Homo sapiens: one gene and its partner. The protein of the gene in region 2 purifies or fractionates together with the protein of the main gene of each other region. This does not show direct contact. Each region holds a gene or a part of one and is shown on either strand. Other genes may lie near its edges.

What was found. The genes of interacting proteins can lie anywhere in the genome.
Region 1: the proteins of MTCH2 (region 2) and SKIC3 purify together in Homo sapiens (affinity purification with mass spectrometry; one large-scale study listed by BioGRID and IntAct). This does not show direct contact.

The regions. Positions count from the first base shown.
Region 1 is NC_000005.10:95,465,686-95,467,977, forward strand, and holds part of SKIC3 (superkiller complex protein 3), read right to left. Parts: coding exon 2,181-2,292; intron 1-2,180. UniProt on the Homo sapiens protein: Component of the SKI complex, a multiprotein complex that assists the RNA-degrading exosome during the mRNA decay and quality-control pathways.
Region 2 is NC_000011.10:47,625,043-47,629,618, reverse strand, and holds part of MTCH2 (mitochondrial carrier homolog 2), read left to right. Parts: intron 1-572; coding exon 573-666; intron 667-2,491; coding exon 2,492-2,539; intron 2,540-3,877; coding exon 3,878-3,945; intron 3,946-4,576. UniProt on the Homo sapiens protein: Protein insertase that mediates insertion of transmembrane proteins into the mitochondrial outer membrane. Catalyzes insertion of proteins with alpha-helical transmembrane regions, such as signal-anchored, tail-anchored and multi-pass membrane proteins.

The DNA.
Region 1 (2,292 bases), on a different chromosome or scaffold from region 2:
TCAGTCTGTGACGTGGATGGACTGATATAGTTTCCCACATATGCAGTCGGTTGCATTACAAGAAGGGAACCCTAAGCCTAGGATGCTTAATCTTTTATAATGGACAGGAATATCTACCCTTTGTTCTGGAGGGAGATACTATCTCTGTCTTCCAAGGATGTTCACTATACGAATATCTTTGAAAAGATAGACTAGAACAAAGAGTAATCAGGCCTCCTGCTCACAGGATATTTAGAAATGCAAGAGATCCACGGCGAACTGTCTCCCAACATTCATATATGTTCCACCTTTTTGATTTGGAATATGTTGATTACAATGCCTTTCTCCAAGCATTCTTTTCTTTACTATTTCTTTCAGCTTTTACGTTTCACCAAAAGGCAAACAGTATTTCAAAATGCTGTAGGTACTGAAAAAGCTTTTCAGTGATTTTCATTGTGTTTTTAAAATTGTTGGCTAAAGCTATGAAAATTTTAACCCAATACATTTGTATATTCTCTACATTATTCAAAATAATTTTGGATACATATATATTTATATATTTAGATGCCAGAGCCATAGCATGAGAAGTAGAGTAGAAACTGTCACATGTATTTTATAGTAAAGGCAAGAATAAGGCAAACAATTTTTTTAAAGATAATACGAACATTCCATTAGGATTCTGTTACCTCTAACTCCATCCTATCTGCCTATTTGCCTCCACTGCAATGGCTGCAAAAATACAACTAACACCTAGCAGACCAAGGATACTGCCAAATATCCAACATTGCATAGGACAGTACCCACCCTCAACCCACACCTAAGAAAAAATTGTGCATTCCACAATCTCAGTAGGTTGAGTTGAGATCTCTGAAGATGAGAAACTCTGGGTTAAAAAGACTATAAGGGGTATATCATATCCTGGTTTCAGGAAAAGAGAAATATAGGCAGGCAAAAATAGTATAATCATTGTGATGTTAATACAAGACCAGTGACAATTCATGCATGGACATTCTCTCCTTTGGTTTACCAGCTGGCCATTTTTACTTAGCCTTGCTTCTTGCTTAAATACAGTTAAAACCTTCAACTTCTTTAGAGTCCTTTCTTTAAAAAAGAAAAGGAATGAATAAGTATAGTTTTAAACAAATGTCGCTTTGGGAAAAACTCTTGATTCATTGCTTCATTCTTACGGCTTTTTCTTTGCTTCCTTACTATAAAATAATCCAATGTTTATAAAAAACTGGACAAAATATTTTATCCATCAATTTATAAAGAAATAACAACGGTAAATAAATAATATGAAAGAAAGTATAGTTAAGTCATTCCCTTCTGGCCAAAAAAGGGAAAGAAAATGTTGATTTTTGATACTGCTTTAGGTTGGGTTTAGATGGTCATATATTTGTATTGTTATAAACTTCACTAGGTAAGGGCTTTAGATCAGCAGTTCGCAACTCTTTACAAACCTCAGTACATTTAATGGATGACTTTTAAACTTGTGATGTTCTCATTGGTTCAAAGATAAAGTCCTGCAATTAGACAAGCTCCTTAAAATTCTACCCTTCTCTTTCACTTAAAAAAGCTTATAGGAACGCATTAATAGAGAGATATATAAAAATATCCATGAATCTATTATATTTTATTACTGAAAATAAAAAAGTAAAACCATTTGTCACCTCTGGTTAGTATCTAATTACTTACAACATGCTTCACAACTGATCACGACCCCAAGGTTGTTGGTACTCAAAAAGTGTCAGATTTTGGAGCATTTCAGACTTTGGATTTTTAGATTAGGGATGCTCAACCTGTATAGTTTCCCCATATAAAGGCATCTTGTACATATACAGGTTAAATCAACATTAAACTTTTTTTAAATACAGGTTTTAACAGTTCTGTTATTTATGCCAAAGAGCCCCAGCTTTTGATGTTCTAATATCGAAAGGAGAATGTCATAACTAACCCATGGTAAGATACAAACTGTATATTTAACCTTTAAACCATATGCATAAATATTTCTCATTTTCAACAGATGTAACAGTAGACATTGTAGTCTTTTATTAGCCAAAAAATTACACACTCAGTTTTTAAAAATTCAATCATAAAAGTGAAGTAACTTTGAACAATAACTCTAAAACCCTTAGATCAAAGATAAAACATTTTAAATAAAATCAATGCCTCAAACATTTTAAATAAAATCAATGCCTTACGTCAATAAGCTCATAGTCATCTTTGGCATATAAGTGTCTCAGTAGGTACCAACGTGCAGTTGATGCAATAGATTTGGGATACCCAGGCTGATATACCACTCTTTCCAAAAGA
Region 2 (4,576 bases):
CACATCGCTGCTGAGTGCTGGAGCTGGCATTTGAAGCTGGTCTTCAATCCGTGGGGAAATGCTCTTCCCACTATTCCATGCTGCCTCACCTAGGTCACCCAGACCCTAGAAATGTGGTTTTTGATGCCTCTCATCTGTATCTGTACTTGGGACCATTCTTGCTTTGTAATTTTTCTCGTCTTTTGCTCTGCCAAATATGAATATCAGATAGCTTAGCAAAATCATTTTTTTAAGCTAGTCAAAGCAAAACAATATTTAAGTCTCTTCTGCAAAGCACCTCGCAAATCTTTTGCCTCCCTGCTTACAGTTATGAATAGTAAGGTGAGCCACTGAGGGTATAGCCGACCTGCATTTTAAACATAGGAACAAAAGTCACTGGAGATCAGCTTCAAGTACAGCTGTGTTAACGAGAATGAACTAGGTATGCGGGCTGGATTCTGGTGTTTGATTCCTTTTTTACTTCCCTAGAATGTTTTGTGACCTCTAATTATTTGACAAACATTTGTACTGAAGAGCCTGTCATGTTACTGATCACATTTTTTGGTTCTTATTTTTATTGTTTCTTCATGTAGGGGTCTTGTTCCTCGCCTTCTAGGTGACATCCTTTCTTTGTGGCTGTGTAACTCACTGGCCTACCTCGTCAATACCTATGCACTGGACAGTGGGGTAGGTTGTGACCTTCGTGAGATGTGCTCACCTTGGCTTTAATCTGGCAGCTAGATTAGCTTTTAAAGTAAGATGGGCCGGGCGAGGTGGCTCACACCTGTAATCCCAGCACTTTGGGAGGCCAATGTGGGCGGATCACCTGAGATCAAGAGTTCGAGACCAGCCTGGCCAACATGGTGAAACCTCGTCTCTACTAAAAATACAGAAAAAATTAGCTGGGCGTGGTGGTGCGTGCCTATAGTCCCAGCTACTTGGGAGGCTGAGGCAGGGGAATTGCTTGAACCCAGGAGGCGGAGGTTGCAGTGAGCCAAGATCGCGCCACTGCATTCCAGCCTGGGTGACAGAAGGAGACTCCATTTCAAAAAATAAATAATAAATAAATAAACAAGATGACAGTTTGCTACATGCCAGACTGAACAATTATATAGCTAAAAATTATCAGTCAAATTTTCAAATGCTAATGAAATGAGCATACTGTTCACTGTAGAACGATACTGTTTACTGTAGAACGATACACGTTAAAAGTCCGTAAGATGTGACAGAGTATACCCAAGAGACTTAGCCCTGTGTTACTTCAGGGCTTTAAAGAGATCACTTCTTTACTGATACTTAACTTGAGAGAACCTGGGAAAGCAGGACATCTTTATGGTGTATCGGGGGCTTTTCATCTAATCTGGACTTAAGAGGGTGCCTGTATTGGGCTTTCTAGAAACCTCAGCCTTTTGAGAATCAGTCTTATCTAGAAGTTGTCTTTCTTATCTCAGCAGTTGTGGGGCCTCTTGTATGTCGGCAGCTCCATAGCATGATGATAAATTGAACACATCACAGGGTATATGACTAAATCCATGTTGTAAACCTCTTGAGTACAGAGAGGGATTTTCTTCAACGCATCTGGTAGAAAGCTAGCTGTGTAAAACAAAGGTAGTGAATTGTCCCTTAGATATACTATAAATGTGGTTTTCCAGGGACTGTATTTCTAGGATGTGTGAAAAGGTTATCAATCTCATTTTCTTTAGTATTTGAAATCCTTTTACATTCGTCCCTAAAGCATTTTAGTATAATATGAATTTGTCTGTTAATATTGAATCAGGTTGATCATTTTGACCACTGCCTTATTATTCTAATAATCAGTGTTTTATGGTTTTGTCCTCAAAATTAGTTTTAGACAGGTGTGGTGGCTCATGCTGTAATCCCAACACTTTGGGAGGCTGAAGTGGGAGGGTCACTTGAGCCCAGGAGGTCAAGGTTGTGAGATCACAGCTCACTGCACCTCCAGCCTGGGCAACAAGAGAGATGAGATCCTGTCTCAAAAAAAAAAAAAAAATTAATTTTCAAGCTGTCAAACTGATAATTTAGAGATAGACTATATTGACATGGAGAGCAAGGCACAGTAGCTCCAGCCTATGATTCCAGCGACTCAGGAGGCTTAGGTGGGAGGTTTGCCTGAAGCCAGGAGTTTGAAACCAGCCTAGGCAACATAGCAAGACACCGTCTCTTAGCTGGGCATAGTGGCTTATGCCTATAATCTCAGCACTTTGAGAGGTCAAGGTGGGAGGATCTCTTGAGCCCAGGAGTTTGAGACCAGCCTGGGCAAACATAGGGAGACCCTTATCTCAAAAAAAAAAAGACACCATTTCTTAAAAAATATTTTGAAATTAGCTGGGCGTGGTGATGTGTGCTTCAGGAGGTCACTGCACTTCAGCCTGGGTGACAGAGTGAGGCACTGTCTGAAAGAAAAAAAGAAAAGAAAAGAAAAGGAAAAAAGAATATATTGATGTGTTGTAGTGTTGTAGGTAATTAATTTAAGGCTCTTTTCCTATTTTAGGTTTCTACCATGAATGAAATGAAGAGTTATTCTCAAGCTGTCACAGGAGTGAGTTTTTTAAAATCCTTTTAACCTTCTAGGAATAGTTGTGTTTTGTTTTGTTTTCCTTTTAAATCTGGCTTGTGTCATCACTGCTTTAAGATAACCAGATGTCTCACTGGGACATCTCCCTGAAATTTGTTATATTTGTCAAAGGTAAGAATAACTCAGTTTTCGGCCAGGCGCCATGGCTCATGCCTGTAATCCTAGCACTTTGGGAAGGTGAGGTGGGCGGATCACCTGAGGTCAGGAGTTCGAGACCAGCCTGGCCAACATGATGAATCCCCGTCTCTACTAAAAATACTAACATTAGCCGAGCGTGGTGGTGCATGCCTGTAATCCCAGCTACTCGGGAGGCTGAGGCAGGAGAATCACTGGAACCTGGGAGATGGAGGCTGCAGTGAGCTGAGATCACGCCACTGCACTTCGGCCTGGGCGACAGAGTGAGACTCCATCTCAAAAAAAAAGAGAGAATAACTCAGTTTTCGAAGGAACCACAGACTCACATGTGAAAATAAAGAGAGTAAGGCAGAACCCCTGCCTCACATCCTGCATGGTTTGGTACTGCTTAGCTTTCATAAGGGGCGTGCCTTTCCTCCGAAATAATATTGTTCAGGCCAGACATGGTGGCTCACACCTGTAAACCCAGCACTTCGGGAGGCCAAGGAAGGAGGATCACTTGAGGCCAAGAGTTCAAGACCAGCCTGGGCAACTGAGCAAGACCCCATTTCTACAAAAGTGAAAAAAAAAAAAAAAAGCTGGGGCAGGCGCGGTGGCTCACTCCTGTAATCCCAGCACTTTGGGAGGCTGAGGTCGGGAGTTCGACACCACCTTGGCCAATTTGGAGAAATCTCATCTCTACTAAAACTACAAAATTAGCTGGGCATGGTGGTGCATGCCCGTAATCCCAGCTACTTGGGAGGCTGAGGCAGGAGAATCGCTTGAACCCCAGGAGGCGGAGGTTGCAGGAGAATCGCTTGAACCCAGGAGGCGGAGGTTGCAGTGAGCCAATATCACACCATTACACTCCAGCGTGGGCAACAAGAGGGAAACTCCATCTCAAAAAAAAAAAAAGTAGTTGGGTATGGTGGCGTGCGCCTATAGTCCCAGCTACTCAGGATCAGAGAATTCTTCTGGCCTTTTGTTAAAATGTTGGATGCAGTGGTGTGCTAAGAGGAAGAAGCATCTCCAGGCTCAAAACTGTAACTGTTGTCTTTCCAGGGTACCGATGAAGCGAGACAAGTGTTAGAGTGTCTCACCGCAGTGGCACTAGGCCTTTAAGGTAAAGGAAAGGAGAATAAAGACTAGGAATGATCTAATAACAGCTGCCTTGTTTCCATTTTACAGTTTTTTGCGAGTATGTTGACCTATCCCTTTGTGCTTGTCTCCAATCTTATGGCTGTCAACAACTGTGGGTAAGCACTTTGTATTTCTTATTCTAGTAGGTGGTTGACTGTATGCTGACAGGCGGAGCAGCCTTGTAGAAATTTAGGAAAGATGAATGATCAGTATCAATCTCTGATTGGTATTTTTTTAAAAAGGGGGGGAGGAAAAGTATAATTGATACCATTAGAAGATTCCTAATTTTTTTCTTTGTATGCCCTATGCAGCAGCAGCCTCAATTTGTATTTATTTATTAATTATTATTATTATTTTTTTTTTTTTTGAGATGGAGTCTTGCTATGTTGCCCAGGCTGGAGTGCAGTAGCATGATCTCGGCTCACTGCGACCTCCACCTCCTGGATTCAAGTGATTGTCCCGCCTCAGCCTCCTGAGTAGCTGGGATTACAGGCATTCGCCACCATGCCCAGCTAATATTTTTGTATTTTTGGTAGAGACAGGGTTTCACCATGTTGGCCAGGCTGGTCTCGAACTCCTGACCTCAAGTGATCCACCCGCCTCAGTCTCCCAAAGTGCTGGGATTACAGGCATGAACCACCATGCCAGGCCAATTACTATTATTATTTATAGTTTTTGTTTTTGTTTTTGTTTTTGTTTTTTGAGACAGAATCTCACTCTGTCACCCAGGCTGGAGTGCAGTGGTGC